Regions from separate parts of the Homo sapiens genome. Here region 1 is linked to region 2. Evidence: fine-mapped expression QTL. Tissue or cell type: whole blood. Region 2 holds a variant in brackets; the other region holds the start of a gene. All regions are shown on one strand. Distances are between the middles of the regions.

What was found. PIP is the estimated chance that this variant, and not a neighbour inherited with it, causes the effect.
Region 1: SDC3 starts here. The variant in region 2 is fine-mapped to the expression of SDC3 in whole blood (INTERVAL, PIP above 0.99).

What each region holds. Positions count from the first base shown.
Region 1 is chr1:30,907,455-30,910,212 of GRCh38, reverse strand. SDC3 (syndecan 3) reads left to right here and starts at 1,455. Exons shown (of 5, transcript NM_014654.4): 1 at 1,455-1,764. The coding sequence starts at 1,627. RefSeq lists a silencer at 1,411-1,500.
Region 2 is chr1:30,971,834-30,974,591 of GRCh38, reverse strand. The region is part of intron 10 of PUM1 (pumilio RNA binding family member 1); the gene reads left to right. Among named protein-coding and RNA genes, the nearest start is that of SNORD103C, 5.0 kb to the right of the region's middle. The variant A/TA (reference allele first, on the strand shown) is at 1,340.

The DNA of each region.
Region 1 (2,758 bases), 64 kb after region 2:
CGCCCGCCACCACGCCCGGCTAATTTTTTTGTATTGTTAGTAGAGACGGGGTTTCACCATGTTGGCCAGGATCTCCTGACCTCGTGATCCACCCGCCTCGGCCTCCCAACGTGGTGGGATTACAGGCGTGAGCCACCACGACCGGCCTGATTTCATTCCTATTTTCTAATGGCAGGCTCTAAGCTGGGTGCTGGGACACAGGGGCCAGAGAGGAGAGTAACTGAGGGTAGAGACGTCCAGCCAGCTGTCATCAGCAAATAACCTCTTCTTGCTGGCTCTCAGCTTCCCCACCTAAGAAGTGAAGATATTGACAGACCGACCTTATGGGGTTCCTGAGAAATGATATAACACATGAAAGCGCTGGGCACCTGGCATGTGGTCAGGGTTCCAGAAATGTTTCACTCTCCCCTATCTTGCCCCAAAACACTTGGTTTTGAGCCCCAGTAAATGGGAAACACATTCATTGATTCAGCAAATTTGGATTGAGCATCGATGTCATGCCGAGCTCTGTGCTGGTGCTGGGGACATAGCAGTGAACAAGACAGACACAAAACCCTGCCCCCGCTGGAGCTAACACGCCATTGGAGACTTGGAGAAGTAAGAACAGCATGGGGTATGCCGCTGGGGATGAAGGTGAAGGGGGAAAAGGCACCGTGACCACACAGGGTAGAAAGACCACCAGCGCTAGAGACTGCCACTCAGAGATGTACTTTTCTCGCCATCCTGCACTGGAGGGGGTGGTCCCATTCAACCATGGGGGGTCTGAGTCTCAGAGAACTGGGGGCCTTGCTGGAGGCGCACAGCTGGTGTGGAAGCAGCTGCGCTCAGGTCTGCGTGGCTTTTCCTCTGCAGATCCACAGTGACAGGGCCCAGAAGTGACCACCCCCATGGTCCCCTGGGGAGACCGAGGCCCAGAGAGGGCCGGGCCCTGATCTGAGGTCACACAGCCCCTGGGTGTCCTGGAGGCATGAAAGCCCGTGGTCTTGGATGACCTCTGGCCCACTGGGTGGACTGGCTGAGTGTGTGAGGGTGACGATGGGAGTCCAGGAAGAGACACGTGCGTGGAGCCACAGGGGGAGGCTGTAGATGAAAACGCCCATGCGACCCCTCCGCTCGGCGACTTCAGGGAGCCAGGCCCGGGCCCTGGTATCCCACGCGGGACCCTTCCCTTCTACCTAGCACGGCGGCCGCGGAGGTGCGTCCGGCGGGCTCCGCGACCTCCAGCCCCGGGATCGGCGAGGCCGGCTGCTCACTCAGGTGTCCGGGTGCCCACTCGGCAGCGCGGGGCTCCCTCTGGGTGGGGGCGGGGGCTGGGACTGGGGTCAGAGGGCGCGGAGCCCCGCGGGGGGCGCACTGGGGCCCGCCCCGCCCCGGGCCCCTCCTCCGTTCCGCCCGCGCTGGGGGCGGCCCGGCGGCGGCGGCGGCGGCGCACGCTTCCTGCGGGCGCGGCCGCTGTGGGCGCGGAGCTGCGAGGCGGAGCCGGGCGGCCGAGCCGGGAGCCCGCGAGCCTAGAGCGCGTCGGTCCAGCCGCCGGGCCGCGCCGCCGCCAAGCAGCCGCCCCGCGCGCCGCGCCTCGGGAACAAAGGCGCCCGCCCGCCGCCCGCCGCCCGCGCCCGCGCCGCCGCCATGAAGCCGGGGCCGCCGCACCGTGCCGGGGCCGCCCACGGGGCCGGCGCCGGGGCCGGGGCCGCGGCCGGGCCCGGGGCCCGCGGGCTGCTCCTGCCACCGCTGCTGCTGCTGCTGCTGGCGGGGCGCGCCGCGGGGGTGAGTGACACGCGCCCGGATCCCCGCCACGGCTCCCCGGGGCCGCCCCCCGCGCGGGGTGCCGGTCCCCGCCCGCGACCCCCCCTCCGGGACCCCGCTCCCTCCCCCCCGGCTGCTTCCCCCGGGGCCGCGGTCCCTGCCACCCCTCGACCCTCCCCCGAGCGCCCCTTTCTGCACCCTGCTCCCCCCCCTCCGGAATCTCCCCCTAGCTGGCATCCGCGGGGAGAGGCCGCCCCCGCCGCTGGTCATCTTCGGGGGGCGCATCTCTCCTTCCTTTTGGGACCCCTCCCCAGAGGGAATCCCGGGAGGGAACCCGATCGCGGGTCCTCAGCCCTGTTCCCCCACCTCCCAGTGGCTCCGGGAACTGTCTCCCCGGGGACGAAGCGGGACCCCTGCGCTGGCCTGGGAGGCGCGAGAAGGACCCGGCGGCGGGCTGGGGGTCGCCGTCCCGGCTGGGTGTGTCTTGGGGTGGGAGTGAGCCTGGCTTTTGCCTCGTGGGTGTGCCCAGACCATGGCCACTTTTTGGGAATCGGATCGGTTCCCCTTCCGAGGGGAGGGTGTGCATTTGGTTCTTCCCAGGGTCGCGGCAGCCGGCCAGGGCAGTGGGCCCGGGAAGGGGAGGTGGAGGTGGAGGGTGACTTGGTGAAGGTGACCTGAGGGGGGAGTGAGGGTAACCCTGTGTGTGGGCGTGTGTGGGCGTGTGTGGCCAACTCAGTGAGGGGTGCGGGGACCTGTGGGGCGTGTGCAGGTGAAGGATGTGTCTGCCACATGGGTGGATGCCAGCGTGCCCTCCCGTCCGTGGTCGTGGGAGGGTGACCCATTGTGCATGATGTGTGCCTGTGCCTGGCTGGGCCACTGTTGGCTATGGCCGTGTGTGGCTGCAGTGGGTGAGGGTGTGTGTGTGAAAGACCTCTGGTGGGCGTGTGCTTGGACCCATGAATGTGTGTGAGTGCACATAGCAGCGTGTGCATGCAGGTGCATGGGGGACCCTGGA
Region 2 (2,758 bases):
TAGGTAATATTGCGCCTAATAGAAAAACACTGTGAATGCATGAATTTCCTCTTGTGTGTATATATGTGTGTCTGAGTTCAGGCTCAGATTTAACTACTCTTACGGAATGTCTTTTATATATTAGACACTATTGTACCTAGGTGGGGTAACGATACTAACCAGTTCACCTATAGGGAAATTGCTTAGCTGCAAGTGGCAAAGTGGATCTTCAAAGTTACAGTAAAATTTTGTTCTGCCATACTGTAGTTGCTTGCTAAGCACCACTTTCAGATCATTTCAGGGTTTTGCAAGGGGCTTGACACTAAAGCAGGGGTACTAGATTTTTAGACTGCTTATTTGTAGTACCTATTGGATTGGATTGGATGTAAATCTTAAACTATCATATCTGCATTAGCTTTTTATTTGAGTTGAGAAAGGACGGTAAACTGCAAAACTACATCTTTTATTTTTTTAAACAGGTCATTTCCTCCTTGATTGCTAGAATAACACCTTTTTTTTTTTTTTGAGATGGAGTCTAGCTCTGTCGCCCAGGCTGGAATGCCGTGGTGCAATCTCAGCTCACTGCAATCTCCGCATCCCGGATTCAAGCAGTTCTCCTGCCTTAGCCTCCTGAGTAGCTGGGATTACAGGCACGCTACACCATGCCCAGCTAATTTTTGTATTTTTAGTAGAAATGGGGTTTCACCATGTTGGTCAGGCTTGTCTCAAACTCCTGACCTCGTGATCCACCCGCCTCGGCCTCCCAAAGTGCTGGGATTACAGGCGTGACCACCGTGCCTGGCCAATAACACCTCTTTATTGATAGAAACTGTGGTAAACTAGAAAACTTGAAAAAAAAAATTACCCTAAATCCTTATGTCAGAAAACCAATGCTATTATGTTTGGTATCTGTTATTTTAGCCTTATTATTTAATATTTTACAAAATTGTCATTATTGTGTCCACGTGGTTTTACATTCTGATTTCATACTTTACTGTGTTATTTAGTGTTCTTTTAAATGACATTTTTACTAGGTACATTTAAATCCACCAAACGATACTTTATTTTGACTAGTCTATTATATTTGATATTTCATTTGTATCAGTATTTTGGTGTTTTAAATGAGATTGATTAACATCCTTTACATAAGTTTATCCTTGGAAAAAATTCCTAGTAATGGAGTTTTTCTGGAGCAAATAAAATCAGCACTTAGGCTTCGATACGCATTGTCAGATAAAAGCTGTCATTTGAGACAAAACACCCTGCTCATATATGAATATATTAAATGATCCAAACAAGAATTTTTTGCTTGACATCAGTCTTACTCAGAGGGTGTATGTTTAATTTTTTTTTTTTTTTT[A/TA]GATTCCACACAATTACAGAAAAAAAAAACAGGTCTTGAAATTCCCCCCGTTATTTGGACACTATTAAATGATTTTCTTGGCAACAGATACAGTTCTTGTACCATATATATAAGGAAATTCAGTAAATAATTTGTTGACAGAATGAGTGATCTGTTAAAATAAATTTGTTTTGAGACGGAATTTTGCTTTTGTTGCCCAGGCTGGAGTGCAATGGTGCAATCTTGGCTCACTGCAACCTCTGCCTCCAGGGTTCAAGCGATTCTCCTGCCTCAGCCTCCCAAGTAGCTGGGATTACAGGCCCCCACCACCACGCCTGGCTAATTTTTGTCTTTTTAGTAGAGACGGGGTTTCACCACATTGGCCAGGCTGGTCTCGAACTCCTGACCTCAGGTGATCCACCCGTCTCGGCCTCCCAAAGTGCTGTGATTGTAGGCCTGAGCCACCACGCCTGGCCAAATTTCTTTTTTTGTTTGTTTTTTTTGAGATGGAGTCTAGTTCTATTGCCCAGGCTGGAGTGCAGTGAGCTCTTGGCTCGCTGCAACCTCTGCCTCCTGGGTTCAAGTGATTCTTCTGCCTCAGCCTCCTGAGTAGCTGGGATTACAGGTGTGTGCCGCCACACCTGGCTAATTTTTGTATTTTTAGTAGAGATGGGATTTCACCATGGTGGCCAGACTGATCTCGAACTCTTGACCTTCAGTGATCCACCCCCCTCGGCCTCCCAAAGTGCTGGGATTGCAGGCATGAGTCACTGTGCCTGGCCTATTAAATAAATTAATTTCTCTTCTCTTCTCTTCTCTTCTCTTCCCTCCCCTCCCCTCCCCTCCCCTCCCCTCCCCTCCCCTCCCCTCCCCTCCCCTCCCCTCCCCTCCCCTCCCCTCCCCTCCCCTCCCCTCCCCTCCCCTCCCCTCCCCTCCCCTCCCCTCCCCTCCCCTCCCCTCCCCTCCCCTCCCCTCCCCTCCCCTCCCCTTCCCTTCCCTTCCCTTCTTTTCTTTTCTTTCTGACATAATCTTGCTCTGTCTTCCAGCCTGGAGTGCAGTGGCGCCAAGTTTGCTCACTGCAACCTTCGCCTCCCAGGTTCAAGCAATTCTCGTGCCTCAGCCTCCCTAGTAGCTGGGATTACAGGCACGTGCCACCATACCTGGCTAGTTTTTGTATTTTTGGTAGTGACAGGGTTTTACCATGTTGTCCAGGCTGATCTCGAACTCCTGACCTCCAGTGTTCCACCCACCTTGGCCTCCCAGAGTGCTGGGTTACAGGTGTGAACCACTGCACCTAGCAAATAAATTTCTTAATAACTGCTCTTTGTGGATAAGTCTGTATTTATTTGTGTGATCATCTTTTTGTTTAAATGGCTGCCAAATTATTATGCATTTGGAAGACTAAAGTAATTACCATGTTTTAAAATTAGGTCTAATACA